7 separate regions of the Homo sapiens genome follow, and regions 2, 3, 4, 5, 6 and 7 are each linked to region 1. Evidence: fine-mapped expression QTL. A gene starts in region 1. Each other region holds a variant in brackets. All regions are shown on one strand. Distances are from middle to middle. Region 1 holds the start of FAM20C (FAM20C golgi associated secretory pathway kinase). Region 2 has its middle 25 kb from the start of FAM157D. Region 3 has its middle 14 kb from the start of FAM157D. Region 4 has its middle 43 kb from the start of LINC03015. Region 5 overlaps LOC105375114 (a long non-coding RNA gene). Region 6 overlaps LOC105375113 (a long non-coding RNA gene). Region 7 overlaps LOC105375113 (a long non-coding RNA gene).

Region 1 (4,344 bases):
CTGCGCTGTGCCTGGCCCCGGGCGGAACTTTGAACGAGGCTCCTGTCTTAACTCGACTGCTTGTGCTTGGGGGAGATAAACAATAAACAGGAGCAGAAGAAAGTGTCCTCAGACCACGGCGGGTGCTGTTGGGAAAACAGTGGCGGGGCAGGGAGGGGGGCGCTTCTGAAGGACCTGGCGAGGTAGAGGCCACTGTTCTAAGAGGCAACAGACGAGATGAACCAGGACCCTCTGCGAGGGAGGGAGGCGTCCAGGGGTGCACACGGGTCCAGATAGCTGCCGGGCTCCCAAAAACCACTCTGGGGGTGAGGATGGGAGGGGAGAGGAGTTGGGGGCAGGAGGCAAGTGAAAGTAAGTGCCCAGGGAACCTCCATGAGGCCCCCCACACCGGATAATAGTGTTCCATGGGGTCTGCTCAGCCCCATGTCTGCCCCAAGACACTAGCCACAGCTCTGCGTCGAGGTCCTGTAGACCACGGGAGAGATGGGGGGGCCAGGAGCCTATAGAACTCCAAGTCCAAGGGGACCCTTGCTGGGAGAACACAGGCCAAGACCTTCCTTCCTGCCACAGGCTTCTGTCCCTGCTGTCTGCTCCCCCAGGACTCCCCCCACACCCGGGATCTTCCTCCTCACCCTCCTTGGCCTCTCTCAGTGACCCTGTCTACACACAGATGTGCTGTCCATGTGAGTGGAAGGAAGGAAGGATGAGGTCCACTCACAGGGGTGAAGCTGTCTCCTGAGGGGGCAGCCCACCTCCAGGTCACACCGCCCCACCCAACACAGCCTCCAGTCCAGCTCCAGGTGGGCCGCACCCAGCCCTTCACTCACTTCAAATGGCCCAAGACGCATGGATTCCACTGGCCAGCCGGACTGGAACAACTTCTCCCCTTATAAGTATCTAGTGGGTGCCCACGGAATGCCAGGCAATGGGCCAGGCTCAGAGATGAGTGATTCCTCAGGAACAATGGGCTCAACGCCCTTAATTCACATCAGAGGAAACTGAGGCTCAGAGAGGGCGGAGAGGGCCCTGGTAACACAGCCAGCCGGTGAAAGTAAGAGGGGGGGCCCAGGCCCTGCTCCCGGCCCACCCGCCTGGGCTTGCTGGCGAGGCTGCTGGCCCAGGCAGTCTGGGCACTGTGGAAGCAGCCGGCTTGAGGCACAGGGGATGTGGCCTCCTCCCACACACTTACCTCCCTGACTACATCTTAGGCTGACATCCAGATTAACTCATATTCCCTACAGGGAGCTGCACGGCCAGAAGCTGCTGGTTGCAGAAGCCACCAGCTGGTTGTACAAGCACCGCTCCCCTGGTTGTGGGTGACAGATGAGATGCACTCACGTGAACACACATGCATGTGCACACACACATGCACACAGACGCACACACAAACACACACAGGCATACACACGCACACGCACATCCACACACACACATGCGCACACACACGCACACGCCTGCACTCACACACCCCCGTCGGCCCCAAGCAGGAAGGCGCCCCCGGCACACCAGCCCCTCTCAGCGCCCCCAGCGGGCCCGGCGCCTGGAGGGTTAAGGCGGGCGCGTCCCGCGGGTGGGCGGGGGGGGGGGGACGGGACCGGTGCCGGGAGCTCCGCTGCCCTGGCGTCCCCTGGGTCCAGGCCCAGTCGCTCCTTGGGCCTCTCTCGCGGGGCCGCCTCCGCCTCCTCCTTGCCGAGACGGGCGTGGGGCACGGGGTCGCCGCCCGGCGGGGAGCTCATCCGGCGGCGCAGACGCCCCGCGGCTCCGGGGAGGGACTTGGCCTGGGCCCCGGCCCCGCGCTCCTCTGGGGAGGAGCCGAGAGGCTGCAGCTGGCGGCGGCGGCCCCGGGCGGGAGGGGGTCCCAGGAAGCGGCCAGGCCGGAGCCCCCCACTCGGCCGCAGCTGCTGGCCTGGCCAGAACCGAGCGCGCCCTCCCGGTCTCCGCCGCTTCCCTCTGCAAACCGCGGGCAGGAGGAGCCCTCTCCTTAGCGGGCCCGGAGCTCAGAGGCGTCGCGGGGCGCGGCCGAGGGGAGGAGGAAGGAGAGCGGGAGCGCAGCCGGCCCGGGCCCAGCCGTGACTCGTGGGGCGGCGGCTCCGCCAATCTGTGGGCGCTGACGCGGGGGGCGGCTCCGCGGCGCTCGATATCTGCCCGCCCGGGACGCGGGGCGCCGAGAGGCTCGGCCAGGCGGGAGCTGCGCTCGGGGCGGCCGCTGCACCTGCCCGGGACCCCGCCGGCCGCTCCCCGCGCCCACCCCTTCCGCCCTTCGCCCCCCCCTTCCCCCCAGCCCCGGTCTCCCGGGCGCGGCGTGAGAGCAGAGCCCGGCCCGGAGGAGCCGCCCCTTCCCCGCCCGCCCGCCCGGCGCCTGGAGAGGAGCGCGCTGAGGATCGGGACGCCTGCGGCCGCCGCCACCGCCCAGGCCCGTCGCGCCCCGGCCGGGATGGACCCACACGCCCGATGAGCCCCGCGCCGGCGGCTGCGAGCGCCGAGCCTCCCCCTGCTGCGGCCCCAGCCGCCCCCCGCGCGCCCGGCTCCGCGGACCAGGACCCCTGGGCTCCCCGGCTGAGGGCGCGGCCGCTCCGGAGAGGCCGAGCGGGGACGGGCCCGAGATGGCGCGGGGACCCAGCGCTCCGGCGGCGGGCGCCCTGCACGCGGCCCGGGCCCGGGGACAGCCCCGGAGCTGGTAGCCGCCCGGCACCGATGGACCTTGACCCGCGAGGCGGCGCCGCGCTCGTGCCCAGCTGCAGCTAGAGGGGCGCGCGGGCAGAACGCGCTCCAGGCCCGGGCCGGCCCGCGCGGCCATGAAGATGATGCTGGTGCGCCGGTTCCGCGTGCTCATCCTGATGGTGTTCCTGGTGGCCTGCGCGCTGCACATCGCCCTGGACCTGCTGCCCAGGCTGGAGCGACGCGGCGCGCGGCCCTCGGGGGAGCCCGGCTGTTCGTGCGCGCAGCCCGCCGCCGAGGTGGCCGCGCCCGGCTGGGCCCAGGTTCGGGGCCGCCCCGGGGAGCCCCCGGCCGCCTCCTCCGCCGCCGGCGACGCGGGCTGGCCCAACAAGCACACGCTCCGCATCCTGCAGGACTTCAGCTCCGACCCCTCCTCCAACCTCTCGTCCCACTCGCTGGAGAAACTGCCGCCCGCGGCCGAGCCGGCCGAGCGCGCCTTGCGGGGGCGGGATCCCGGCGCCCTAAGACCCCACGACCCCGCGCACCGGCCGCTGCTGCGAGACCCCGGCCCGCGTCGGTCCGAGTCGCCCCCCGGCCCCGGCGGAGACGCCTCCCTCCTGGCCAGGCTGTTCGAGCACCCGCTTTACCGGGTGGCGGTTCCGCCGCTCACGGAGGAGGACGTCCTGTTCAATGTGAACAGCGACACCAGGCTCAGCCCCAAAGCGGCGGAGAACCCGGACTGGTGAGTGGGGGCTGGCAGGTGCCCACCCCCAAGGGAGCCGTGAGCCCAAGGCATGGTGTAGAGAGGTTCAGGGGCCCCAGAGGGCCGCCCCCCATGGAAGAGGCCGGGCAGGGAGTGTGGTGCGGGAGGAGGCAGCCGCCTACCTCAGGGCGCTGCCTTTGTCTCCAGAATAACCTCCTCCTTGGGAGGGGCTGCCGGCTGGTCCGGGAGCTGTGCCCTGTGGCTGCTGGTGAGGAAGCCAGACCCCGCGCCCTTTAGAAGCGAGTCCTGACCAGCCGTGGTCACCAGCTTGGGAAATGGGGTCAGGCAATGAATGAATGAGTTGGTGAGGGAAGGAGCCAGGCTGCCGCTGGGCTTTCAGACACTTGGCGAGGGTGCTCTGGGTGGGCACCTTGGAGAAGGTCTGGATGTGCCTATTGAGTCTTTTAAACCCAGTGGCTGGAGCAGAATTATCAGAGGGGCTTGCTGGCAGCCGTGAGGTGCAACAAGGCGGCCCAGCCAGCAAGGGCGGTGGGTGTGCTGGCTGCAAAGAGATGATGGCTCGATAAAGGGCGAGAAGCCACGGCAGGAACCTCTCTTTAAACTGTCCTGGCTAAGCCCTTTCCCCACCCCCCGGCCCCTCCCTCCGCCACACAGATCAAAACAAGCAGATGCTACACCGAAGCAGTGGAACATTAACCACGACAAGGCCAGAATAAGTAACTACCTGCCGAAGGTTACCCCAGCAGCAGAGGGGGAGACCAGCCTTCCAAAAGATCTGGTTGAAAGTCCCTTCTTCCCTGAAATGTCCAGGCCCAGTGTCTTCTGTCTAAACACACTGGCTGTTTGGAAGCCTCTGAGCCTTGCCTGCTGGTCAGGTTCAAGGAAATGCTTGGAAATTTGAGAACCAGAGCATTGGCCTGGGCTGTGGCTCTCGGCAGGGAGAGACGGCCGCCCAGAGCAGC
Region 2 (4,344 bases), 130 kb before region 1:
TTTGCAAGGATGGACAGAGAACAGCACTAACATGCATGAAAATGAACCACACCCTGTGGTGGTGTCCCACTTAGCTGGTGGGGTCTACGGTGAGAGAATCGGCATGTATGTGTCCTGGGCCAGCAGCTGTCCTCAGGATGGACACTGAGGTCAGGTCCAGAGCAACTAATTGATGTCAGATCTGTGAGTTGCCTCTGATCAGCCAATCTGAGTAGCATGTTTATTAGAACATTTTTGCATTTGGGGGAACCAGAAGTGAGCTGATCTGCATATAGGCCAGCCTTTCTGCATAGGGCACAGCGTATGTGCAGGCAGGCTAGCTTATGTACAAACAGCCCACTATGTGTGACGTGGAACAGTCACTCTGCAAATAGAGCAGCTGTCCCCACATGGGCTACTACTTAGACCAAGCTTCTCCAACCTGCAGTCTGCGGGCTGCGTGAAGCCAGACACAGCTTCGAATGGGACCCAACACAAAATCGTCACATTTCTTAAAACTATGAGAATTTCTTCACGATTTTTTTAGCTCATCATCAGCTATCATTAGTGTTAATGTATTTTATGTGTGGCTAAAGACACTTCTTCTTCCAATGTGGCTCAGGGAAGCCACAAGATTGGACACCCCTGATCTAGATGCAAGATGCTATTTTGGAAGATGGTGTTAGTGATAATTATTTCAATCCCTGGCAGGGGGGCCCTGAACAAGCTACTCCTCTCAGAGTTCCTGCAGTCTTCCTGGGGGTGGCACCTTCAGCTTGTTCTGTGCCCATCAGCGTTATCAGCCCAGTGCTTGGGCACCTGGAAGGCATCTCCTGTTCATTCCCGGCTGCCAGGGTGACAGAGGCTTGTGTTTTGCGATGTACCGATGGTTTATTTTAATTAGGTATGATAAGATGACAAACATGGAGACAGCTGTCTTGAAAGGAGAGTTTATTACTTAAGGTTCCCAAGAGGAGGGGGCATGGCATACCAGGCAAGGCCATGTGGGAAAGCACCAGCTCAGCCGGGAGGCAGCAGGAGTGAGGGGTGAGCAGGCCCAGAGCCCTTATCGTGGGAAGGAGCTGGGGAGGTGTGGTGACCAGCTGAGCAGGCCTAGGGCTGGCGTTTCAGCAATTTTGGAGGGCTCTGGGCTCTAGTTGTCTGGTTCCTGGCCCTGGGTGATTCAGGGTAGGGAAATACTGGCCTGGGAGTGCAGGAGCCCATGTAGGAGGTGGCTGGAGCCAAGGGCTTGGATTGGGCGGTTTGCACATGAAAGGCACACTCACCAGGGAGTCCCCAGGAATTAGCTACCCCTGGGAGAGGCAGTTCCTTCTCTGGTCAGTGAGGCCCCAGGATGTCAGAGCATCATAAAATACAGAAATTAAAAAAATAGGATTAATACAACTTGGAGGAAGCATATGGGGTTTTGGGGATGCCGTTCAGACCTCACACTGGTCCAAGCCTTCTGCCTTCCTGGGACTTCTCCACCTCTCCACGCGGTGACAATGGGCAACAGAGACTGGGCCAGGCGGCACGCTTCTTCCCCCGCCCCGCTGACCCCACCAGAAAACACCATTTGCCGTATGATCTCTGGGCAGTGGAGGTCGTACTGTGGGAGGGGCAGCTCTGTTCTTGAGCTCCTTCCACTGGGAGCCCTCAGGCTCAGAGCCCACGTCCCTCCCACCTCCCATCTCCATACCTTCTGTCATTATTTAAATGAGAGTATTATGCAAATGTAATGCAAAAATCGAGTTCAACAAATCTGTTCTTACCCACACAGGGGCAGCTAATTTATGGAGCTCAGACTCAGTCTAGGTCCCTTCTTCGGGGTAATGCTGTTTTTGGAACCCCAGACAAAGTAACAGCAACTCCAAGATTTTCACAGAAGCTTCCTTTGATGACTCCAAGCTCCCCCAGACCCGGTGGAAACGCAGACTCCTTGGCTAAC[A/G]CTGCCATGGGAGTAGAACCCACCACAAGCCCCCTACACTCCACATGGGGAGAGCTGGGACCCATGCCCTACTGGCTAGAAAGTGGTCCATCCTGAGGGACCTGAGTCAACAAGGATGCCGGGGCTGAGCCGGGCCCTGACGGGCACCCGGGACCTCATGGGGGAGCATCTGAGCAGGGCTGGGATGAATGAGGAGACACCAGCAAAGAGGATGTTGAGAACAATTCCTGGGGAGAAAATTGTGGTCTCATTACCTCATTCGAAGTGGCCTGATCTCAAGGAAGCAGGGAGCAGAGAAACATAATCGGAACATCTCTGTGCATCAGGTTTTCGTACTGACCGTGAAGCACCAAGTGGAAGCAAGCCTCGCGCTGGGAGGACAAGGCTCTCGGCGTTTCCTTGTGGATTTATTTGCTCAGCATGAGTGCCCTGTCAAGCCACCCAAGGGACAGAGCTTCTGGCTCAGGGACCACGGTTGGCTCAGCACAGGCAGCCTCTGGAGATGAGAGGGAACCAGTGGATACCCTTCTATCCCTGCTGGCCACGAGGGGTGGCAGTGTCCCAGGTAGAGGTACTTAATAAAGAGGTTGCTGGTTTTATTTTTCTCTAAATTATTTTTCGAGGAGCTTTTCCATAAGCCCAGGCCCTGGGTTCACACCATCACTGGGGCAGAAGCCTCTTCCCTGCCTTGTCTGATGGGGTCTTTACACCTTCCTCGGTCACTGATGCCAGGTGCTATTGTTCCTGCTCAGCCAATGTCTGGACTGAGTCCCGAGCCTCATTCCATGGGCAGTGGCTCTGTCTCCAGGTGGGGCACATGGAGGCCAAGTCCCAGGGCAGGGCCCACGGTGGGCCTGGTCTTACGGGTGGTGAGTCAGCTGGGCCGGCTGAGAGAGAAGAAAATGAGCGGAACCAGGAGCAAGACAGGTGGAGGATGGGCAGAAGACAGGGTGGCCTCCTCAGGTGGAGAGATCTTGAGGGCCATTTTTCATGCCACCTCCCTCCACAAATCTGCCCACGGCTCCCGATAGCCACGCTCTCCAGCACCTGCCCTTTCAAACTCCAGGGCAAGCTCCAGATATCACCACACTGACCATCTAAAGGGAGCTTGGTTAGCAGTGAATACGTGCCCGTGACCCTGTGGGCTCGGGAGACCCCCATGGGGCTTTCCTGCTCCCTTGGGTAGGGGAGGCTCACGCCTGTGGGTCGGCACCAGTCTGCTTCTCATGTCCCTCCTCACCTCCCAGGCCCCTGGCCCCGGACAGGATAGGTAGAGGCATTTCCTCTTTTCTGCCTTGACTCACTTCACAGAGAGGGGCCTCCCCCACGTGCCTGGCCCCACTGCCAACCCACCACGTGCCGGCCTTGGAGTATGGGGGAATGTGCTTTGCTGCCATTTCTGAACCTGAGGGAGCTTATCTTTCTTCTGAGAGCCCTGTTCTAGGTAGGCAAGCTCCTGTATACTTTACTGCCATTTGTTCAAGTTCCAATTATGGAAGGGACCCTTAGTGAAAAGAGCTTGGTGCTGAGGTGTAATTCTCTGAGCACACTGGGCCTGAGAGCAGCCTTGCAATGACAGGGTTTTCCGGCTCGAAGGAGCCGTCCCCGAGTCCTTTCCACTGGTCTTGGAAGGGAAGAGTCTGTGTCTCGGCGACAGAGGGTGTCTTTGTGGATAAATGAGGCCTCTTTGTGCATGGCCTGCCCAACAGAGGCCACAGGCCGGACACATGCTGACCTTGGACACCTTCCATCTCTGGGGTCAGGGCTGGGACCAGAGGAGATGCCGAGGCCAAGACTAAAGCCCCCCAAAGGTCTTCTGGGCAACTCCCCGTTCAGGGCTAAAAGTCTCCCTGTGATCCCTCCCAGAGGGTTCTGCTTGCACCCCCAGGGCCAGGCACAGCCCCCACACTCTCCTCCTCCCCACACCAGTTCCTCTGCCACCCTCATGGGGCCTGACCACTCCCTGCAGCTTGGGGAGTCCAAAGCACCCCCTTCCCTGAGGGACAGGAGGGGCCCCTGAGCCAGGGCCCTCTAACAGCCATCCCGGGGCCTGGGGTCTGTGGAGGGGTCACGTCCTTGCTCCTTCCTTTCTGTGTTCCCACTTCTACGAGGAGAGGGGTGGAGACTCTTTCCAGCTCTCCAGGTCTACCTCCACACAGCCTTGGAGGGGCGTCCTGGGGGTAGATTACGAACAGGATGGGGCGCTGCTGTCTTTGTGGAAGCCCAGGCCTCCTCCTCGAAGGCCCTATGATCCCGTGTCTGACTTGTAGGTGTCCGTGTCCCCTTCCCCACCAGGCTGTTCACTCCTCCAGGGTACAGGTCCCCCCTCCAGCTCCTTTCTGGGACCCAGAGCTCACTTCAGGGCTCAGCACAAAGTAGATGGCCTGAGATAAGCAGACAAGTAGATGGCACCGCTG
Region 3 (4,344 bases), 140 kb before region 1:
AATCCAGCAGCACATCAAAAAGCTTATCCACCATGATCAAGTGGGCTTCATCCCTGGGATGCAAGGCTGGTTCAATATACGCAAATCAATAAATGTAATCCAGCATATAAACAGAGCCAAAGACAAAAACCACATGATTATCTCAATAGATGCAGAAAAGGCCTTTGACAAAATTCAACAACCCTTCATGCTAAAAACTCTCAATAAATTAGGTATTGATGGGACGTATTTCAAAATAATAAGAGCTATCTATGACAAACCCACAGCCAATATCATACTGAATGGGCAAAAACTGGAAGCATTCCCTTTGAAAACTGGCACAAGACAGGGATGCCCTCTCTCACCACTCCTATTCAACATAGTGTTGGAAGTTCTGGCCAGGGCAATTAGGCAGGAGAAGGAAATAAAGGGTATTCAATTAGGAAAAGAGGAAGTCAAATTGTCCCTGTTTGCAGATGACATGATTGTATATCTAGAAAACCCCATTGTCTCAGCTCAAAATCTCCTTAAGCTGATAAGCAACTTCAGCAAAGTCTCAGGATACAAAATCAATGTGCAAAAATCACAAGCATTCCTATACACCAACAACAGACAAACAGAGAGCCAAATCATGAGTGAACTCCCATTCACAATTGCTTCAAAGAGAATAAAATACCTAGGAATCCAACTTACAAGGGATGTGAAGGACCTCTTCAAGGAGAACTACAAACCACTGCTCAAGGAAATAAAAGAGGATACAAACAAATGGAAGAACATTCCATGCTCATGGGTAGGAAGAATCAATATCATGAAAATGGCCATACTGCCCAAGGTAATTTATAGATTCAATGCCATCCCCATCAAGCTACCAATGACTTTCTTCACACAATTGGAAAAAACTACTTTAAAGTTCATATGGAACCAAAAAAGAGCCTGCATCGCCACGTCAATCCTAAGCCAAAAGAACAAAGCTGGAGGCATCACACTACCTGACTTCAAACTATACTACAAGGCTACAGTAACCAAAACAGCATGGTACTGGTACCAAAACAGAGATATAGATCAATGGAACAGAACAGAGCCCTCAGAAATAACGCTGCATATCTACAACTATCTGATCTTTGACAAACCTGAGAAAAACAAGCAATGGGGAAAGGATTCCCTGTTTAACAAATGGTGCTGGGAAAACTGGCTAGCCATATGTAGAAAGCTGAAACTGGATCCCTTCCTTACACCTTATACAAAAATCAATTCAAGATGGATTAAAGACTTAAACGTTAGACCTAAAACCATAAAAACCCTAGAAGAAAACCTAGGCATTACCGTTCAGGACATAGGCATGGGCAAGGACTTCATGTCTAAAACCCCAAAAGCAATGGCAACAAAAGCCAAAATTGACCAATGGGATCTAATTAAACTAAAGAGCTTCTGCACAGCAAAAGAAACTACCATCAGAGTGAACAGGCAACCTACAACATGGGAGAAAATTTTTGCAACCTACTCATCTGTCAAAGGGCTAATATCCAGAATCTACAATGAACTCAAACAAATTTACAAGAAAAAAACAAACAACCGCATCAAAAAGTGGGCAAAGGATATGAACAGACACTTCTCAAAAGAAGACATTTATGCAGCCAAAAAACACATGAAAAAATGCTCACCATCACTGGCCATCAGAGAAATGCAAATCAAAACCACAATGAGATACCATCTCACACCAGTTAGAATGGCGATCATTAAAAAGTCAGGAAACAACAGGTGCTGGAGAGGATGTGGAGAAATAGGAACACTTTTACACTGTTGGTGGGACTGTAAACTAGTTCAACCATTGTGGAAGTCAGTGTGGCGATTCCTCAGGGATCTAGAACTAGAAATACCATTTGACCCAGCCATCCCATTACTGGGTATATACCCAAAGGACTATAAATCATGCTGCTATAAAGACACATGCACACGTATGTTTACTGCAGCACTATTCACAATAGCAAAGACTTGGAACCAACCCAAATGTCCAACAATGATAGACTGGATTAAGAAAATGTGGCACATATACACCATGGAATACTATGCAGCCATAAAAAATGATGAGTTCATGTCCTTTGTAGGGACATGGATGAAATTGGAAATCATCATTCTCAGTAAACTATCGCAAGAACAAAAAACCAAACACCTCATGTTCTCACTCATAGGTGGGAATTGAACAATGAAAACACATAGAAACAGGAAGGGGAACATCACACCCTGGGGACTGTTGTGGGGTGGGGGGAGGGGGGAAGGATAGCACTGGGAGACATACCTAATGCTAAATGACGAGTTAATGGGTGCAGCACACCAGCATGGCACATGTATACGTATGTAACAAACCTGCACAATGTGCACATGTACCCTAAAACTTAAAGTATAATAATTAAAAAAAAAAT[TA/T]AAAAAAAAAAAAGAAATATCATCTCACCCCAGTTGTGATGGCGTTCATCAAAAAGACAAAAAATAACCAAGGGAACTCTTGACACTGTTGGTGGGAATGTAAACCAGTACAGCTACTGTGGAAAGCAGTGTGGAGGTTCCTCACAGAACTACAAACAGAACTGAGGTAGGAGGTGGGACTCAACTCCAGAGGTGGGGCTCGAACACCGGACCAGATTGAGGACTAGCTAAAACAGGGCTGGGGCGGAAGCAGCTTTCAATCAGACACACCCACCAGTGCCATGGAAGTTTATCGTTGCCATGACGACACCGGGAGTTACCGCTCCTTTCCATGGCAATGACTCAATGACCCAAAAGTTACTATGCCTTCCTTAGAAATTTCTGCATAAACCGTCTTTAATCCGCGTGAAATTAAAAGTGGATTAAACATGACTGCAAAACTGCCCCGAGCTGCTCTTCTCTTCTTACAGGGCAGAGAGGGTAGCCCTGCTCTGCAGGAACCGTCTCAGAGCTGTAACATTTCTTCTTTATTAATAAAGCTGTTTTTGGCCGGGCACAGTGGCTCACGCCTGTCATCCCAGCACTTTGGGAGGCTGAGGTGGGCGGATCACGAGGTGGGAAATTCAAAACCAGCCTGGCCAAAATGTTGAAACCCCGTCTCTACTAAAAATACAAAAATTAGGTGGGCGTCGTGGTGCGTGCCTGTAATCCCAGCTACTTGGGAGGCTGAGGCAGGAGAATCTCTTCAACCCAGGAGGCGGAGGTTATAATGAGCCGAGATCGCTCCACTGCACTCCAGCCTGGGTGACAGAGCAAGATTCCGTCTCTAAATAAATAAAGCTGTTTTCTTCTTCCTTTGGCTTGCCCTTGAATTCTTTCCTGGGCAAAGGCAAGAACCCTTGCAGACTAAACTCCACCTTGGGGCTCACCTGCCCCACATCAGAACTACCATAAGATCCAGCAATCCCACTCCTGGACATTTATCCAAAGGAAAGGAATCGGTATATCAAACCAATATCTGCAACCCCATGTTTATTGACAATAGTCAAGACGTGGAATCAACCTAGGTGTCCAACAGCAGATGACTGGATAAAAAACGTGGTATATACACACAGTGGAATACTAGTCATCTGTAAAAAAAAATGAAGTCCTGTCATTCATGGCAAAACGGATGGAACTGGAGGACATTATGGTAAGTGAAATAAGCCAGGAACAGAAAGTTAAATACTGAATGTTCTCACTGACATGTGGAAACTTTAAAAAATGTTGCTCTCATAGAAGTAAAAAGTAGAACAGAGGATATTAGAGGCTGGGAAGGGGAGGGAGAGGGGACGGATAGGGAGAGATTTTTTAAAGGATATGGAATTACAGCTGGATGGGAAAAATAAGTCCTATGGTTCTTTGGCACTGTAGGGTGACTATAGTTAACTATAATTCATAGTTTCAGATAGCTAGGAGGAGAAATTATCGTGTTTGAGACGATGGATGTGTTCGCCACCCTGATCTAATCCTTGATTCATTCTATGTACTGCAGCATCCCTGTGAACCCCACGAATATGTGCCATATTGTGTCAATTAAAAAAATAATAAGAAGTAATTGAGAACCCTAATAAGTATGGTTTATCTATTAACATTTACCATGTTAAAGATGAAAATGGAGAACAATTTAAAATCTTAAGAGTATTAGTCTCTAGAGGGACAGGACTAATAGGATAGAAGTGTATATGAAAGGGAGTTTATTAAGTAGTATTGACTCACACGATCACAGGGTGAAGTCCCACAGTAGGCTGCAAGCCGAGGAACAAGGAAGCCAGTCTGAGTCCCAAAACCTCAAAAGTAGGGAAGCCGACAGTGCAGCCTTCAGTCTGGGGCCAAAGGCCCGAGAGCCCCTGGCAAACCACTGGTGTAAATCCAAGAGTCCAAAACTGAAGAACTTGGAGTCCG
Region 4 (4,344 bases), 86 kb before region 1:
TACTTTGAGATGAAAGGCATTACAAGAAAACCACAGACCAATATCCTTAAGAATATAAATGCAAAAATCCTCCACAAAATACTAGCAAATCAAATCCAGCAACATATAAAAAGAATTATGTGCAAAACCAGATGAGATTTATCCCAGGAACACAAGGTTGATTTGATATCCAAAAGCCAATCAATGTAATACAGCATATTAATGGATTCATACAAAACCACTCTTAGAAGAAAACATAGGAGGAAATCCTTATGGCCTGAGTTTGGCAATGATTTCTTCAATATGGCACCAAAAGCACAAGTGATAAAAGAAAAGAGAGATAAATGACACTTCACTAAAATTAAAAACTTCTGTGCTACAACCAATGCCATTAAGAAAGTGCAAAGATAACCCACATAAAAGGAGAAAATATTAGGAAATCTTCTAGAGTAATCCCCTCTTATCTGCAGGCAATACATCTCAAGGCCCCCAGTAGATGGCTGAGACCACAGAGATTACCAAACACTGTATATACTGTTTTTTCCCATATATGTATACCTGTGATAAAGTTTAATTTATAAATTAGGCACAGGAAGAGATTATCAAGGATAACTATAATAAAATTGAACAATGATAAAAATATGCCGTAATAAGACTTATGTGAATGTGACCTCTCTATCGCTCTCTCTCTCAATACCTTAATGTACTGTACTCACCCCTCTAAATACCTTATTGTACTGTTCTCACCCCTCTTTGTTGTCATCATGTGAGATGACGGAATTGCCTCCGGGAGGAGGTGAGGTGAGGTGAGGTGAATCACGCAGGCATTGTGACATTGTCTTAGGATGCTGTTGACCTTCCGATGAATGATCGGAAGGAGGATCACCAAGCCATGATGAGCAATGGCTGGATGTCAGGAGCAGACAGTGTAACGACTAAGGAAGGAGCAGTCTATACAGTGTGGATACAGTGGACAAAGGGATGGTTCACAGCTGGGAGGGATAGCTTGGGCTGGAGCAAGGTCTCACTGTGCTACTCAGAACAATGCACAGTTCCATGTCGTATTTTCAAGCCATGGCTGACCACAGGTAACTGAAACTGTGGAAACCAGGACACCAGGTAAATGGGACCTGCTGTATCTGATAAGGGACTCATATCCAGAATATGTAAGGAACACTTAAAACTCAAATAAAATAAGGGTTATTAACCCCATTTTAAAATGGGCAAAGGATTTGAATAGGCACTTCTCAAAAGAAGATGTACGAATGGCCAGTAAGTGCAAGAAAAGATGCTCAACATCATTAGTTATTAGGAAGAAGCAAATCAAGACCACAGGGCGATGCTACCTCATACACTAGGAGGGTGATCCTCAAAAAGACAGAAAATAGTCTTGACAAGGACTTAAGAAACAGGAACCTTCTTTGGGAAAGAAAATAGTGCAGACAAAAACAATGAAAAGGCGCTGAAAATGAGTTCAACATAGAGTGACCACATGGCCCAGCAATCCCCCCCTAGGTGTGCGTCCCAGATAATTAAAACCATACATCCAGCCAGGCTAAGGGGCTCATGCCTGTAATCCCAGCACTTTTGGAGGCCGAGGCAGGCAGATCACGAGGTCAGGAGTTCGAGACCAGCCTGACCAACATGAAGAAACCCCATCTCTACTAAAAATACTAAATTATCTGGGCGTGATGGCACATGCCTGCAGTCCCAGCTACTCGGGAGGCTGAGGCAGAAGAA[T/A]CGCTTGAACCCAGGAGGCAGGGGTTGCAGTGAGCCGAAATCGCACCACTGCATTCCAGCCTGGGCGACAGAGCGAGACTGTCTCAAAACAAACAAACAAACAACAAAAAAGTACATCCAAATAAAAACTTGAACACAAACGTTTGTAGCAGCACCACTCATAAAGCCAAACAATGGAAACAGCCCCGATACACGTGACTGGCGAATGGCTACAGAAGATGTGGTGTATCCGTACAACAGGATGTTATTTGGCCATGAAAAAGAATGAAGTACTTATAAAAAAAAAGAAAAAGAAAAAAGAAATGAAGTGCTGACACAGGCTACAAGGTGGATGAGCCTGAAAACATTATGCGAAGTGAAAGAAGCCAGTCGCAAAAGACCACGCACTATATGTTTACATTTTGAGAAACGTGCAGAACCCATAGATACAGAAAGAGGATTTGTGGTTCTTTAGGGCTGGGGGTGGGGGCAGGGCTGGTGGCTGAGAGTAGCTAAAGGGTGTGGAGTTTCTTTTTGAGGTGGTGAAAATTTTCTAAAATTGACTGTAGTAATGGCTGTAGAACTCTGTGAATATACTGAAAACCATTGTACACTTTAAATGGGTGAATTGCATGGTATGTGAATTATAACCCAGTAAAGCTGTTTAAAAAATAGTGGGGGGCGGGTGGAGGGAATGAAGAGAAGGTGGTTAATGGGTACGAATAAACGGTTTGGTAGGAGGGGTGAGTTCTAGTGTTGATAACACAGTGAGGGGATTATAGTTAACAACAACATACTGTATATTTTGAAATAGCGAGAAGAAAAGATTTGAAATGTTCCCAACATGAAGAAAGGATAGACGTTCGAGGTGATGAACGTCCTAAATACCCCAATTCCATCATTACACATGGCATGCGCGTATCCAAATATCTCATGCACCCCATAAATATGTAAAATGTTATGCATCAATAAACAATTAAAGGTATAAGCGTTGCAGAGTGTCTTCCTTCCAAATAATACAGTATGAAAAGGGAAAAAGAGCAACTTTACAGTGGAGAAAACTGGAAACCTCTGCCTCAGCCACATCGCCGAGGTTGACATCACCGGTGACAAGTCACGCAGACAGCAAGGACGTTGGTGTGATGCTGTGGGAAGGTCACTTTCCATCCTCCCCACAACCCGTGACCCCAAACTAATCACAGGAAAAAGATCAGACAAGTCCCAAATGAGGGACATTCCACAAAATACCCAACCAGTCCTCCTCAAAACTGTCAGGATCACTAAAAATAAGGAAAGTCTGAGAATCTGTCACAGCTGCGAGGGCCCTAAGGAGACATGAGGGCCAACTGTAACATCATACTTTGGATTCTGAGGTAGAAAATGGATATTAAGGGAAAACTGAGGGAATGTGAATAAAGTATGGACTTTAGTTCCTACTACTGTATCGACATGGGCTAATTCACTGTGACAAAGGTACAGTATAATGTGACAGGGTAAGAGTAGGGGAACCTGGGTGTGGAGTATACAGGAACTCTGTGCTATCATCACAATTTTTCTTTATATCTAACAATGTTCTAAAATGAAGTTTATTTTAAAAATAAAAAATAAAGACAGGGGTCCTTGATATCAATAAACCCCATGAAAATACATTCATTAATAATCAGGGAAGCACCTCCCCCAGCACATGTGCATATGACACCCATGCACACACTCAAGCACACGTGCACATGACACCCAGGCACACACTCAACCCAAGCACATGTGCACATGCACACCTGTGCACACACACTCAACCCAAGCATGCATGCATGTGTGCATCTGTGCCCACAGTCAACCCAAACACGTGTGCACCTTACACCCATGACACACCCAACCTGAGCACATGCACACATGCTCAACACAAGCACGTGCACACATGCATACCCATGCACACACAATGCAAGCACATGCACTTCTGTGCACACACATGATGCAAACACATATGCATTGCATGCCCATGCCCATGCAGTCAACCCAAACACGTGTGCACATGCACATACTCAACCTGAGCACATGCACCCATGTACACATGTGCACACACACTCAACCCAAGCACACATGCACATGATACCCATGCACACACACTATGCAAGCACTTCTGCACATATGTGCATGTACACATGCACTCCATCCAAGCACATGTGCACATAGACACCCATGCATGCTCAACTAGAGCACATAAGCAGATACATACATGTGCACACACACACAACCCAGGTATGCATGCACATGCACGTCCATCTGCACACTCAACCCAAGCATGTGCACACACACACACTTGTACACACACACTCAACCCAAGCACATGTGCAGTTGCACGAATGTGCATACACAACCCAAGCACACACTCAACCCAAGCACAGCTCACCAGGGACAGAGGCCCAGGAACAGACTCTGACAAAACAATGAAGAGAATCCAAAAAGCAATTACACTGCCAAGTATTACGCAAACACAATTATTGGAATTGCTAGTCAAAAACGGTTAATAGAATAATTAAGATAGATTGACCTAAAAGCTGATTTTAAATTAACCTGACATGTGCATATACTATCTAAATAATACTCTTTCCTCTGATTTAGTCTCTCATTAAAATCAGATTTCATTGG
Region 5 (4,344 bases), 77 kb before region 1:
TTTTACCTGAAATCTTTGGTCCACTCATATTTAAATAAGTATTGACATGGTTATGTCTGGGTCTGTAATTTTATGCCTCGCTCTCTATACATACCCTCCAGTTCCCCCCTTTGTTTCTCATTTCTTAACTTTTTTTAGGGTTACGTGAATATTTACTGATTGATTTTTCTCCTCATTATATTTTGTGAATATACGTGAATATTTATTGATTGATCTTTCTCCTTATTAAGCTTTTTCAGCATGGTATCACCTCAGTAGTAGAGCATAATCAGTCCTAGACTAATTTAGGCCCCACCCAAAAAAGCTTAAAATCAAGCCTCAAATATATCAAATTGTTTCCAAGTAAAGTAACTTCATCCCTGAAAAGTTTTAAAATAATTTTAGGAGTGCAAAACTATCCAGGATCTAACAAGGAAAAGTACATGATGTCTAGCATACAGTAAAAAATCACCAAGTATGCAAAGAGGCAGGAAAACACATCATGTAATGAGGAATATCAACAAATTGAAACTAATTCACAAATGGCACAGATGAGGGCATTCCTAGACACAGATGAACTGTAGTTATTATCACTCTATTCCACATGATAACGTTAAGCAGAGATATGAAAAACATTAAAAAGTCCCAATTCTAACTTTTAGAGATGAAACCATTTCTGAGATAAAGAAAATTCACTGGATGAGATGATGAGATTAGACAGACACTACAAAAGGAAAGATTAATGAACTTAAAGGTATATAATAGAAACCATCCAAAGTGAAACACAGACAGAAAATAGACCCCTTCAAAAGGAGCAGAAAGCTAATTGGGGGGCAACTTCAATTGGCCTAAAATTCATACATTTAGAGTCCCAGAAAGAAAACAAAGAAAAAAAAACAGAAAAAAAAGGAGGACATAATGACTGAAATCTTTTGAAATTTGCTTTTTAAAAGCTACATATCCCAGTCCAAAAAGTATGAAGTACGAAGAAGGCACATCTTAACCAAACTGCTTAAACTGGGTAAGAACGAGACAATCTTAACAGCAGGCAGAAGAAAAGAGACGTGCTGGGTACAGAGGAACAAAGACAAGGATGACGACAGGTTTCTCCTTGAAAATGAGGCGAGCTAGAGGACAGTGGAACAAGCTCTGCAAAGTACTGCCGGGAAAAGCCTGTTGATTTGTGATTCTGTACCTGGCAACAAAGGTAGAAACAGGGTGAGATATCAAGTTTTTCAGACATATAAAAGCTAAAATATTAATCATACCAGCAGATAAGCACTAAGAGATATTAAAGAAAGTCCTTTGGACAAGAGGAAAATGACATTATAGGAGACCCGATAGAAGCACAGGAAGGAAAAGCATGTTTTGCTGGGTATAGAACATGTAGAGAAATAAAATATGTGCCCACAAGGACATGAAGGAGGGCAGGGAATGGAAGTGTGCTGCTGTAAGGTTATTAAACCATCATGATGTAGTGTAATATTATTTGAAGATAGATTATGATAAGTTGAAGGTGCACACTATAAACCCTAAAATGTATACACACACACGCACACATACATATGTACAGACAGAGTTATGGGGAATAAGCCAACAGAAGTGATTAAATGGGATGATTAAAAAATACCCAGTCCAGAAGAAGGCTGGCTAAGAGGAACAGGAAACAAAAAGTAGACAGGATAAATAAAATGCAAATAGCAAGATGGTGGTTTAAGTCCAACCATTATCAACAGTGATGGTAGATGAAAATGATCTATAACCATTGGTCTAATTCAGTGGCAGTTTGTCAGACTTAATAACAAAGCAAGACCCAACTAATTGCTGCCTACCCAAAACCCACTTTAAATATAAATTCACAAATACATGAAAACTAATGGGATTTTAAAAGATACACTGTACTAACACTAGTCAAAAAAAAAAAAAGCGGGAACAGCTATATTAATATTGAACAATGAACACAACCAGCATTATAAAGAAGGTCATTTTGTACCAGCCTTTAGCTGGGCTTCTTTTATCTGCTTTGAGTGTGTGCAGTTCAGGGCCAGTCGGAAACATGAGTAGAGTCCGCCAAGTTTCCCCTTCTGGACGCTCCCCCCCTCCACTGGCCACAGCTTCCCCAATTTCGT[C/T]CTGCTCCTGTTCCAGGCCATGAAGACTGTGGTCTTCCCTGAGGACCCCCAGCTCCTCATGCCCTAACTACATAGTGCTCAGGCTAACAGCCACGGTCAAAGAGAACGTGCTTCCTGCAACTCCTTTATCCCCCGTGTACACCCCAGGTCCGTCTTGCTGTTCACTCTCCAACGCCCACAAGCAGCCTGTTTGCATTGTGTACAGATTTTGAAGCTGTTTTCTGTAAGGGAGTGGGTTTGGTGTGATCTTACAAAATCCTTACAGGAAGCAGAACCAGCAATTACCCATCCACTTTTAGAACTGCCTTGTGCATGAACCTTTTGTCCTTTGAGTCACACTTGGAAAAAGTGTAGGCTTCGTCTGTTGCAAAGGTCATGGTGGCTTCACTCCAAGAAACTTGAGAAACAGTTATTGTTTTAAACAGGGCACAACTGCAGTGTCCTGAGGAGCCCTGCATGGCCATGGAGTTTGCTGGATGAGGGATATGGACGGGCTCCTGCAGCGAGAACAGAGACAGAGAGGGAGAGGGAGAGACAAAGAGGAGACAGAGAGGGAGAGGGAGAGACAAAGAGGAGACAGAGAGGGAGAGGGAGAGACAAAGAGGAGACAGAGATACAGGCAGAGAGAAGTGGGAGAGACAGAGGAGAGAGAATATCTGGCAAACACATTCCACTTTCGGATTCCTGCTCTGGACATGGAGGCCTGCTCTTCTCCATAAGCCCTCTCCCTTCCTTCAACGTCCTCGGGAAAAAGCGAAGCAGACCCTTTTCCCTCCCTCGCCCTCCTTGCCCTCCACAGGGGCTCTTTCCCATAACCTGCTGGCTGGTCTCTGTGGCTGAGTTCTGCCCATCCAGGAATGGACTCACCAGTGTCCCGGTCCAGCCCCATCTCCCCTCCACACTCAGGAGCTCCTCGGGTGAACTCGGTGCTAGCCAGGCACTCAGCACCAGGCTCGCAGGCTTCTTCCCAACACCTCCAGCCTGTGCCCCACCTGCACCCACACCCATCATTCTGCTCCGGGCTCTGCCCCGAGGCCCCCAGTTCCCTGAGCTCGCCCATTCTCTGGCCTTCACCCACACTATGGCCTCTGCCTGGCCTCCCTCAGCCGTGTGGACGCCTCCTCTCAGCATCTAGGATCTAGGCCCATCTCCACGCCGTCTCAAAGACGCTGGGCTGCTGCCCACTGTGAGACAGGAGCCCCCTCTCTGTTCCACACCACCCTTGACAGGCACTTACCAGGCCCGTCCACCTCATCTGGTGGGTCGTGTCCGTCCTTTCATCAGATAGCAAGTCCCTCAAGGCCCAACTCCCTGAGCCCCCATCCCCCTCTTTGTCTCTCCTCCAGGGATTAGTGTCACCCCTGATCCCACTCCGGCTTGGCCTCACCCACAACAGCTGGCACCCACCTTGGCCCTCCTGGCTGTGGCCTTGACCCCTGGTGTTCATCCTGGCTCAACCCCTGGCCCTGGTTCTCTTGGTGCCACCTAAACAGTCTACACTGTCTTGTGTTCACCTTTTCTTTAATTATTTGTTTAGCAGAGCAGAGCTGATTTTACAAATATAAATCCGCCGGGCGTGCTGGCTCACCCCTGTAATCCCAGCACTTCCGGAGGCCGAGATGGGTGGATCATGAGGTCAGGAGTTCGAGACCAGCCTGACCAACATGGTGAAACACTGTCTCTACTAAAATTACAAAAATTAGCCAGGCGTGGTGGCGCGCGCCTATAATCCCAGCTACTCAGGAGGCTGAGGCAGGAGAATCACTTGAATCCAGGAGGCGGAGGTTGCAGTGAGCTGAGATCACGCCATTGTACTCCAGCCTGGGCCACAGAGCAAGACTCTGTGTTAAAAAAAAAAAAATATATATATATATATATATATAATTGTTTGACCAAATGCAGTGATTTCTCCCAGTTTGAGAAATAACTCTTCTTTATAAAGTCATGTTTTGGTGAAGCAGGGCTGGGTAAACCTGCGCCACAATGGGTGGGAGCCCGCAGGAGACAGGCCCTCGTCCAGCAGTGTCCAGACAGCTGCATGGAGCAGAACACGCAGCCCTCACCCTAGAGCCCCGACTTGGGTCATGGGGGCTTAGAAAGAAAGAAAGGAAGAGACAAGACTGGATAAGAACCGGGTTTGGTCAAGGAAAGGAGGGGTGGACGTGCAAAGCCCTCCCGTGCGGGAGCCCTGGGACGGGGGCACCATCCCACAGCCCCCCGGCAGCCGCCGATCCCC
Region 6 (4,344 bases), 110 kb before region 1:
CCCGGCAGCGCGCAAACCATCCCTGTCGGCTCCCAGTGAAATGCTACAGGATCTCAGGGCAGCTGCACCCCGCAGGTTCAGAAGGGATGGGATTCTGTGTCCTTTTCCTTCTTGCTTCAGACCTTCACCTGGGGCTCTAACACCGAAAGTCTGTGCCAGACAGAGGCATCCACAGCGACAGGAGCCTGGGCCAGGGCGGCCATCCCTGCTGCAGAGACAAATGTCAGTGTCCATGGAATCAGTTCGGTGCGGTGAGCGGCAGGTCTGATATGAAAGCTACTCGCACTTCCCGTCTGGGCAAGAGCAGGAACTCGGCAGGCAGAGAGCTGGTGGAGCTTTCCATGGGAAAACCAGAACCTTCAAAGAGCCCGGCCTCCCTCTGATCAGCCCCTTCTTTCTGATCAGATGCATTATTGACGAGGCAGCCTCCTCCACCTGCCTCTCATCAGAGCAGCTCGTTTCCCACCGTGGTAATTTATACTTGTGATTTTGGCCTTGATCAATAAAGGCAACGGAGAAGACGCACCCGTTCATTTCCTACAGGAGGGGCGGAAACACACAGGCCTCTGTGCAGAGCTTTCCTGGGCTCTTCTGAAGGCAAGCAAACCCATCAAAGGGAAGATCTGCACGCTGAAAGGTCAGCAGTTCCCTTTTCCCCATGGGATTTGTGTTAGCAACTTTGCGAGTGGAAGATGCATTTGGAACTGCCAGTCCCTTACAGCCCTCACATGGGAGGTGCAATGTTCATCCTGTCACTATTTTAAAACTCGTCTCAGGGTTGGGAGTAACTGAAACCGTTTTGGGCTTAATTTTGCATGAGGACGTAGCAGAGCATGACAGAAGGGAAAAAGAGAAAATGCTGGCAAAGGAGAAATGGCCCTAAGAGGGAAGCCGGATCCCTAGCTGGGTCGGAGTAGATGAGCGGGGAATGAGGGGCTGGAGGATGCAGCTCCGAGCGTGCAGGGGTGGTGTGCTCTCGGGAGGGAGCTGCTGTGGAGCTACTAAGGAGGGAGGCTGAGGGGTGGGAGAAAGCCCAGGGCTGTAATCGTAGCCCCTGGAGCCTGATTTAAAAGACTGGAGGAGGCAAAACCTTTCCTGGGTGACATCCATCCAGGGCATGACCCTGCGGCCTCCGTGTCTGCTGTGGGCGAGGCTGTCCCTGCAGCCAGCCCTGCCCCCATCCCTTCCCTTCTAGGGATGTTGGAGTGTGGGGCAGCCCAGCTTCTGCCCACAGCACAGATGAGGAACTGAGGATGCAGGGGCCCGTGGGGGACGGCACACGGTCAGCCCAGAATTAGGACCTAAGGTTGGCCCTATGGGTTCCTGCAGCACAGACGTGCAGCATGTGCACCCACATGTACACACAATCAGGCATAGCCACAGAGAATCACACCCTCCCACGCACACCCACACCCACACACCCTCCCACAGGCACACGCGCACCCTCACACTCATGGTCTCGCCCTCCCACAGGCACACCTACACTCACCCACGCCTACAGGCACACAAGCACACACTCCTTTCCCCCCACAATCCCTGCACACCCGTGGGCACCTATGCTCTCGTGTGGTCTGGATCTGCCCTCTGTGTGCACAGCCTGTGCCTGGCCCAGCGTGAGTGACTCGTGGATGCTCTGCAGGTGAGACCTGAGGTGAGTGTCCTGGCACCGCCCGGGCCTGGCTATCGGGAAGCTCCGCCCAGACGGCCGCCTCCTCCCTGGCGCGGGCCTCTTCCCTAGGAGGAGCTCGTTAGCTTGTTTTTCCATCGGTATTCTTTGTCCCCAGTCACCCGGACCTGGGGCTGGGCACTGCCAGGGGCAAATGTGCCATGTGGAGAGGCCAAGCGGGGGACAGGGGCGGCTTGTCCGCCAGGTGGCACCGAGGCGGCTGCGTGTGGGGCAGTGTTCCCACTCTCGTCACCAGCCCGCACTTCCCGCTGCCTCTGAGTATTCTGTGGGGGCTGCCCCGGCTGCAGCCCCAGGTGTAGCCTGCTGGAAATCTCACGGTGTCCAGGCCCCATCCCTAACCGGCCCGGGGCATCCCTGATTTCGTGCTCACCGAGAGGGGCCTCCCTCGGCCTGCCCAGCTAAGAGCCTTGCAGGAGCCCTTCTCCAGCCTCACACTGCCAGCCCCTTTGAATTGCAGCACTCAGGTCCCCAGGAAAGGTGTTTTTATCCAGTTAGCTGTTTTTTATACTTATGAAAAAGCTCCGTC[G/A]CTTGGAGCAAAGCAGAGTTGATTTTCAGATGTGATTTCTGCAGGCAGAGCAATGTCTGGTTCCTGCTGTTTCTTCTGATGGGCGCGGCGGTGACTGAGGGTGTCCTGCGAGCCGTCGGTGAGCGCTCAGCTGTCCTGGTCTGCAAGTTCCTACTGACATCACAACCTGCTGCTTCTCTCTGTCCTTAAGGGTCAGAAGATGGAGAAAAGGTTCATGTTTCCACCCCTGTATTCTGTTAGGTTCGGGTTTTTGAGAGAGGCTTGTGGGGAAGGGGCCGTGTCCCCACTCCTTCCTTTCTTCTTGTACACATATTTACATCCACTGATTGAGTGATTTACAATCACTCAACATGATTGACGGAACTTCTGGCACTGCGGAAGCTGTGCTAAGGCCTGGGCATTCATGGGACATGGAGCGTGCAAGAGCTGAAGTTTTAATGACTTGCTTGCAGAAAAAGATCAAGTTTTACAACAGAAAATTATGGGGCATAATTTCTATTGTGGCAAGGGACCAGGGCCGTCTCCTGGAGGAAATCTGGAGAGAACATGCCACAGCCAGGCCGGCGTAGAGAGAGGCTCTGGCAGGGGCCCCTCCCAACCCACCCCTGCATGCGTGGGGCTTCTGCTCAGCAACAGGGGCGCAGCTCCACTTTCAAAGTGTGAGGGGCAGGGGCTCAGGTCTCGGATGCCTTCACCACCTGCCTGAGTCGGGCATCGGGCAGGGAGCGTGCGGGGGCCTCTGCCTCTGCTGGCCCAGATGATTCCCTGGCCCTCCTCAAGTGCAGCTCCCATTAAATAGATAGAGCCGGGCTCTGAGCCACGAATTGGGCCAAGCATCCCAAGGGGGTGGAACCGAGTCAGGAGTCAAGACCAGAGGCCAGGAACTGCCCACGCCCATGTTCCTTCCACAGGGCCAGCCTGTCCGGTGGCAACACTAATACCATCCCATGAAGCCTGTGAAAATTAAAGGGAATGGTGCATGTTTAGAGGCCACACACAGCAAGTAACCAATGAACACCCACCCTTCATGCTTGGTTTTCATCACTGGGCCAGCAGGGGCGGAGGCCCCAGCACTCTCCCTGCCTGATGCCCGACTCAGGCAGGTGGGCTTGAGAGCCCCTCCCGGGGCTCCAGGGCTCTGAAGGCATCCAACACCTGGGCCCCTGCCCCTCACATTTTGGAAGTGGAGCTGTGCCCGTGCTGCTGAGCGAAAGCCCCATCCAGCTCTCCGAGAACCAGACGAGGGGCAAGGGAGATGAAGTCTTCCTGGAAACTTGGACTCCAGCTGGTGTGGGGGTCAGAGCAGCAGGCTGAGCCTTCAGGGGGCCTCCGGCAGGCTCCCAAGGCTGCGCTGTGCGTCTCTTCCACCACACGCACTGGGGCATGAGGCCAAGGGCATCGTCTGCAGAGCGAGAGGGAAACTGGGGTGGCAGGGCTTGCGGGCGCAGGACAGCGCCAAGGGGCTTTCGTCTCCCAGCATTAGGACGACCTTGTCCTCTGCCCCTGTCTGGGGGCCGCTGGGTCCCTCCTCACAGGAGCGAGGCAGGCAGCTCTGGTGCAGGGCCGGCCAACAGGCCTCAGATCTGGAGTCACAGACCCAAGGACGAGGACAAGGGCCCCACACACCTCCAAGCAGGCCCTGAGGTACTGACGGGCAGGCAGGACCCTCTGTGACCCTTCCTCACTCCTCACCCAGAGAAGCCAGGAGAGCGGGATGCCGAGGGACTGGAACAGAGAAGGCCTCTTGCAGGGGCTCATGGACAGGAAAACAGAGGAGCCTGCCAGGGCCATGGCCACTGGCAGGACAAGTGCCCACTGGAGCCAAGGCCTGGGCAGGGGAGAGGTCTGCAGAGCAGAGCCCGGCCCTGGGTTCCCACAGAGGCGGCTCGCACAGTGGCTGATTTGCCACTCGTTCACTCAGTTTAGTGAGCAGCACGTGAAATGCTAAATCCGTGTGGGCTCAGGAGCAGCCTCAGATGAGGAGAATCCCACAGTTCGTCGGTGAAGCCCCCACCCCAAATCTCCCACAGTCCTGCTCATGCCCAGGGCGGCAGGTGTCCTTTCTAATGGGTGAGAGCCAGGAGCTGGGGGCTGCGTGCGCTGTGGCCCCTCACCCATGGGGGCCTTCCAG
Region 7 (4,344 bases), 100 kb before region 1:
TGTGTCTGACACACCGTTGCTGCTGGCCACTTCTAGTATTATTATTTCTGCTCTTTCCTTTCCTTCATCATATGCTCCTGGAAGGGGCTCAGAGGTGTCCCCACCTTGCCTGTCCTGGAAAGTTGTCTCAGAAGGCCCTGTCCCGGTGGAAAGTGCTGGTGGCTCTGGGTGTCTGGGCCTGAATGGTGGGGTGTGGTCCGCTTGGCTCTGAGCAGAGCGCCTCCATGACAACGCCACAGTGTGCAGGGAAATGGGGGTGGGTGTGGGGGAAGCTGGGGGGTACCCCCACTCCTACTACCTTGAGCTCAGACCACCCTCTGCAACTTCCCTGGGGACCCCCACGGCCACGGGCCCTGGTCCAGTGGTGGGCTCTGCTCAGCCCAAGGGCTTTTGGATTAGAGTGTTACCAGCTTCCTGAGCCCATCCCCACCGCCTGACCTCGGCCTTGGCCTCCTGAACTCATTCTCAGCCTCCTGAGCTCGTCCTCAGCCCCCTGAGCCCATCCTCATCCTCCTGAGCTCCTCCCCAGCCTCCTGAGCTCCTCCTCAGCCCCCTGAGCCTGTCCCCGGCTTCCTGAGCTCCTCCCCAGCATCCAGAGCCTGTCCCCAGGCCCTGAGCCCATCCTCAATCTCCTGAGCTCTTCTTCAGCCTCCTGAGCGGGTCCTCAGCCTCCTGAGCGAGTCCTCAGCCTCCCAAGCCTGTCCTCGGCCTTCTGAGCTCCTCCCTGCCCTCCTGACCTTGTTCCTGGCCTCCTAAGTTCATCTTAGCTCAAGGAGAAGGTCTTGGCTCCTCCTGCCTCCAGCAGCCCCTGGACTAGATGCCTAGTTTATCAGCAACCCAGATCTGAGCCTCCTATCTCAGACCCTGGACCATGGAGCTGTGGGCACCAGGGAAAGCTCTGGGGCCTGCTTGGCTTAGATAGGACCATCGGCCCCAGTGCTGAGCCTGGCTTAGGGCCACCCAGGGACGTGTGCTCTTCATCACTTCCTTCAAGCCAGTATCGCAGTGTCAGGAAGACCCGCTCTGTCCTGGTCACAGCGGTTCCCTCCTGCAGGACCCTCAGAGCCACAGGGCAGCAGAGAGACCTGAGCAGATGGTCCTGGTTCCACGGGGCTCCCCTATGTCACCCTGGACCCAGTAATTAGACTCTTCGGGTAGAAAGCTCCAAGGATCAGTGAGGTCTTGGGGGGTAAAGAGGCGCACACAATGATTGCTTTATCTCCCTCAAATATGCAGAAAATGAACTCCATCAGCACACACGGGCCGCAGGGCTTTGTGGGTCCCCAGGGCCCCCTCTGAATTACACTTTTGTTTTCCTGTGGGAGCAGCTTGTGCTCATTAGGGGAAGGCCAGGTGCCCGTTCATCTGGTCAGCCCCCATGCAGCCTGTTGGAGCAATGGGCAGGTGGCCAGGAGTTTGCCCCACATGTTTCTTTCTGAGTCTTTTGTCCAGCTGAGAACTTTCTACTTGATCTGTGCAGGATATCTGAGCAAGGCTGACCACTGCCCAGGCCCTGCATCTGGGCCCACAGAGGCCCCGAGCTCCACCCGTGGTGTCCCTTTTAGCTTAAAGCTGTGATCCCTCCCCTCTGCCATTGCTGGCAGATTTCCAGCCAAGGCCCAGACAAATTTCTATCAGGGGGTTTGAATGGGGTGTGCCTGGAGCAGAGTTTTGAGCAGGACCTGAGGAAGAACAGGGTCCCCCACAACACGGGTGCTGGGAGATGCTTCCTCTAGGCTGCATCCTGATGGGGCCCCACTGGGGATGCTCCAGCCAGCGGGCACTTCAAAAGGTCCCTCCGCTGCTCTGCTGAGGACAGTGATGATTCCTCAGCGTGACCACTCAGGTCCTTCCTTTTCCCCAGTGCCCAGAGCCATGTGCTGCCTGGGGATTCTGCTCTGTTACTTGGGACCCACCAGTGCCCATGGCAAGAGCTGCAGGCTCAGTGCAGCATCGGCCTTGGGACCTCGAGGGAGTGCTCAGCCACCCACCAGGTGACCCACCTGCCCCAGGGCCATCAGGCCACCAATGGTGGGGAGAGAAGGTGACAGAGGATGCAGGTGGCTGTCTGGGCCGTGTCTGCCTGGGGTGTGGAAGATGTCAGGGAACACAGGCCCCAGTCGGATGGAGACTCAGCTCCTAGTTGCTTTCGTGCTGATGGAGTGGTGGCCATGGACGGCACTGACACCCAGAACAGGATGTGTGGCCCGTGCCTGGGGCACACAGACCCCAGCATCTGAGCCCGCCTGTCGCTGGTGGGGGAGAGGGTACCGCAGGTGTCTAACGGGGGCAGAGGGTAGACAACAGCTCCCTCCAGAAGTCACTGCCCATCCAAGTCACGAAGCTTCCCATCAGTCCCCTGCTGCCATTATAACGGGCTTTGCTCAAAACAATGCCTTCGCCCTCTCCCAGCTCTGGAGGTGAGCGGTCTGGAACAGGCCTCACTGGGCTAAAACCAAGGTATCAGCCAGGCCTGGCCTCCTGGAGGCTC[C/T]AGCAGCGTCCCCTGTTCCACTCCTAGAGGCCCCCACGTTCAGCCAGTGTTCCTGGACCCTCCAGCGGCTGCCTTCCTAGTCACGTGGGCTCCCCCTGCCGTCAGATCCCTCTCGGGACATGTCATTGCCCCGGCCTCACTCAATACTGCAGGATGCTCTCCCCATCCCCAAGCCCTTAATTTATCCACATCTGCACAGATCCCAAGGATTCTGATGTGGACATCTCCAGGGCCATCAACCTCCTACCACAGCATTCCCTGGCCTCAAGGGCGGACCAGCTCAGCATTGGAAACGCCAGGGTCCGGGCCGGCCTCATGGCCTCCAGGCACCCTCTCCCATCCACTCTCCATCAGGCACCAGGCAAATCTCAATCCCCAAATCCCTCTGGCGCCATGGCCGTAAAGAGAAAACCCAGCCTGGGTGTGGCCCCCACCTCCGCGGCTGCAGCCCTGCCCTCCCCGAAGGCCGCTCCCCCTCCTGCTGCCGAGCCCAGGTCATGGCCTCAGCTCCAGCTTCTCACCGTTCCCAGGTTTTGCAAACTCTCTTGGGCCCTGTGTCTCACCTGCTTCTCCTAATTCTTACGTGGAGTCATGGAGGGTCCCCATATTGGGTTTTAGGGTTCAGAAGCAAACCCAACCCAGCAGGCTCCTCTCCTAGGAAGACCCCATCAGGGACCCCTCCCTTTCCACTGCTCTGTGAGCCTGCAGGGCCCAAGGTGGCCCTGATCTGACAGCATCTCTGTGTGGTAGGGAGGGAGCTGCGGGTGAGCAGCCAGTAGCACTCGTCTCACGCCCTCCCCAAGGCCATGTGTGTCTATGTCCACGTGTGTCTGTAGGTGTGAGCGTGTCTGCACATGTACATCTGGGTGTAGATATGTGTGTGTCCGTGTGTCTGTGTGTGTCTATGTCCCTGTGTGTCTGTCTGCATGTGTATATGCGTGTCTACATATGTGTCTCCATGTCAGTGTGTGTCTCTATGCATATGTACATGTGCTTCTGTGTGCATGTCCATGTGTTTCTATGTGTCTGTCTGCATGTGTCTAAGGCTCACAGGACAGAAGCCACAGCCCCACTTCTGTCAGGGCCATGGGGAGGTCAGTGTTCTGGAAAACACGTCCCCCAGGGGTCTCTGACTCACAGAACCACTTCCTCATGCCCTCTCTGCCCCCACAGTTGGGGAGCACAGGCGCCCACAGCTCAGACCCACAGCTGTGACTCACCCACCTGCTGGTCTCCAGCTGGGCCACTGCCCAGGAAGGGTAGCTGAGGACAGAGAAGGAGCCCACAAGCAGGCAGGGTCCCAGGCAGGGTCTCTCTGGGCCTGCACACAGCCTGCTGACTGGCCCTGGGCAGCCCTTTTCTCACAGGACAGGAGGCCTCCAAAACCCTTTGTGCCCAAGGCCCAAGAGCACTGGGAAAGGCCTGTGAGGCTGGGCGGCCACGCAGGCCTCTCACCCCCGGCCAGTGCTGGCCAACAAGTGAGCCAGATGGCATTTCACTGGGTCTTGATCTCCACATGTCCAAGTCTGCAAACACTGCTTCACATCTGCTTCTCCTGAGGGAGATGCCCCTTCATGTCTCGGGGTCTTTTTCTCATTCTTACTGATTTATAGAAATTCCTTACACATTCCTGAGGCCTACCCTTCGTTAGTTATGTCCCCGGTGAGTATCCTCTCATTTTTAGCTTCTCTTTCATTTTCTTTGAGGTTATTTTTGACCAATAGTTTTTTAAATGTACTCACATTTTATCAGACTCCTATTTTATAGCCAGGGCTTCTTACAATGTATTTAAGAAATCCTTCCCTACAGCCAAGGTCATAAATTGTCCACCTACATTTTCCAGACAAACTTTT

The links.
Region 2: its variant is fine-mapped to the expression of FAM20C in whole blood (INTERVAL, PIP above 0.99).
Region 3: its variant is fine-mapped to the expression of FAM20C in whole blood (INTERVAL, PIP above 0.99).
Region 4: its variant is fine-mapped to the expression of FAM20C in whole blood (TOPMed, PIP above 0.99).
Region 5: its variant is fine-mapped to the expression of FAM20C in whole blood (TOPMed, PIP above 0.99).
Region 6: its variant is fine-mapped to the expression of FAM20C in whole blood (TOPMed, PIP above 0.99).
Region 7: its variant is fine-mapped to the expression of FAM20C in whole blood (TOPMed, PIP above 0.99).

Annotation. Positions count from the first base shown.
Region 1 is chr7:190,405-194,748 of GRCh38, forward strand. It overlaps FAM20C (FAM20C golgi associated secretory pathway kinase), which reads left to right and starts at 2,167. Exons shown (of 10, transcript NM_020223.4): 1 at 2,167-3,400. The coding sequence starts at 2,796.
Region 2 is chr7:58,134-62,477 of GRCh38, forward strand. No RefSeq gene overlaps it. Among named protein-coding and RNA genes, the nearest start is that of FAM157D, 25 kb to the left of the region's middle. The variant A/G (reference allele first, on the strand shown) is at 1,928.
Region 3 is chr7:47,453-51,796 of GRCh38, forward strand. No RefSeq gene overlaps it. Among named protein-coding and RNA genes, the nearest start is that of FAM157D, 14 kb to the left of the region's middle. The variant TA/T (reference allele first, on the strand shown) is at 2,400.
Region 4 is chr7:104,408-108,751 of GRCh38, forward strand. No RefSeq gene overlaps it. Among named protein-coding and RNA genes, the nearest start is that of LINC03015, 43 kb to the right of the region's middle. RefSeq lists an enhancer at 4,267-4,344. The variant T/A (reference allele first, on the strand shown) is at 1,720.
Region 5 is chr7:113,293-117,636 of GRCh38, forward strand. It overlaps LOC105375114 (a long non-coding RNA gene), which reads right to left. Exons shown (of 3, transcript XR_926959.3): 3 at 1-2,605. Among named protein-coding and RNA genes, the nearest start is that of LINC03015, 34 kb to the right of the region's middle. The variant C/T (reference allele first, on the strand shown) is at 2,109.
Region 6 is chr7:80,658-85,001 of GRCh38, forward strand. The region is part of intron 1 of LOC105375113 (a long non-coding RNA gene); the gene reads right to left. It overlaps LOC101929756 (a long non-coding RNA gene), which reads left to right. Exons shown (of 3, transcript NR_187733.1): 2 at 1-637; 3 at 2,258-2,692. Among named protein-coding and RNA genes, the nearest start is that of FAM157D, 47 kb to the left of the region's middle. RefSeq lists enhancers at 873-1,645, 1,646-2,416, 3,710-4,344. The variant G/A (reference allele first, on the strand shown) is at 2,214.
Region 7 is chr7:85,846-90,189 of GRCh38, forward strand. The region is part of intron 1 of LOC105375113 (a long non-coding RNA gene); the gene reads right to left. Among named protein-coding and RNA genes, the nearest start is that of FAM157D, 53 kb to the left of the region's middle. RefSeq lists enhancers at 694-1,417, 3,698-4,344. The variant C/T (reference allele first, on the strand shown) is at 2,492.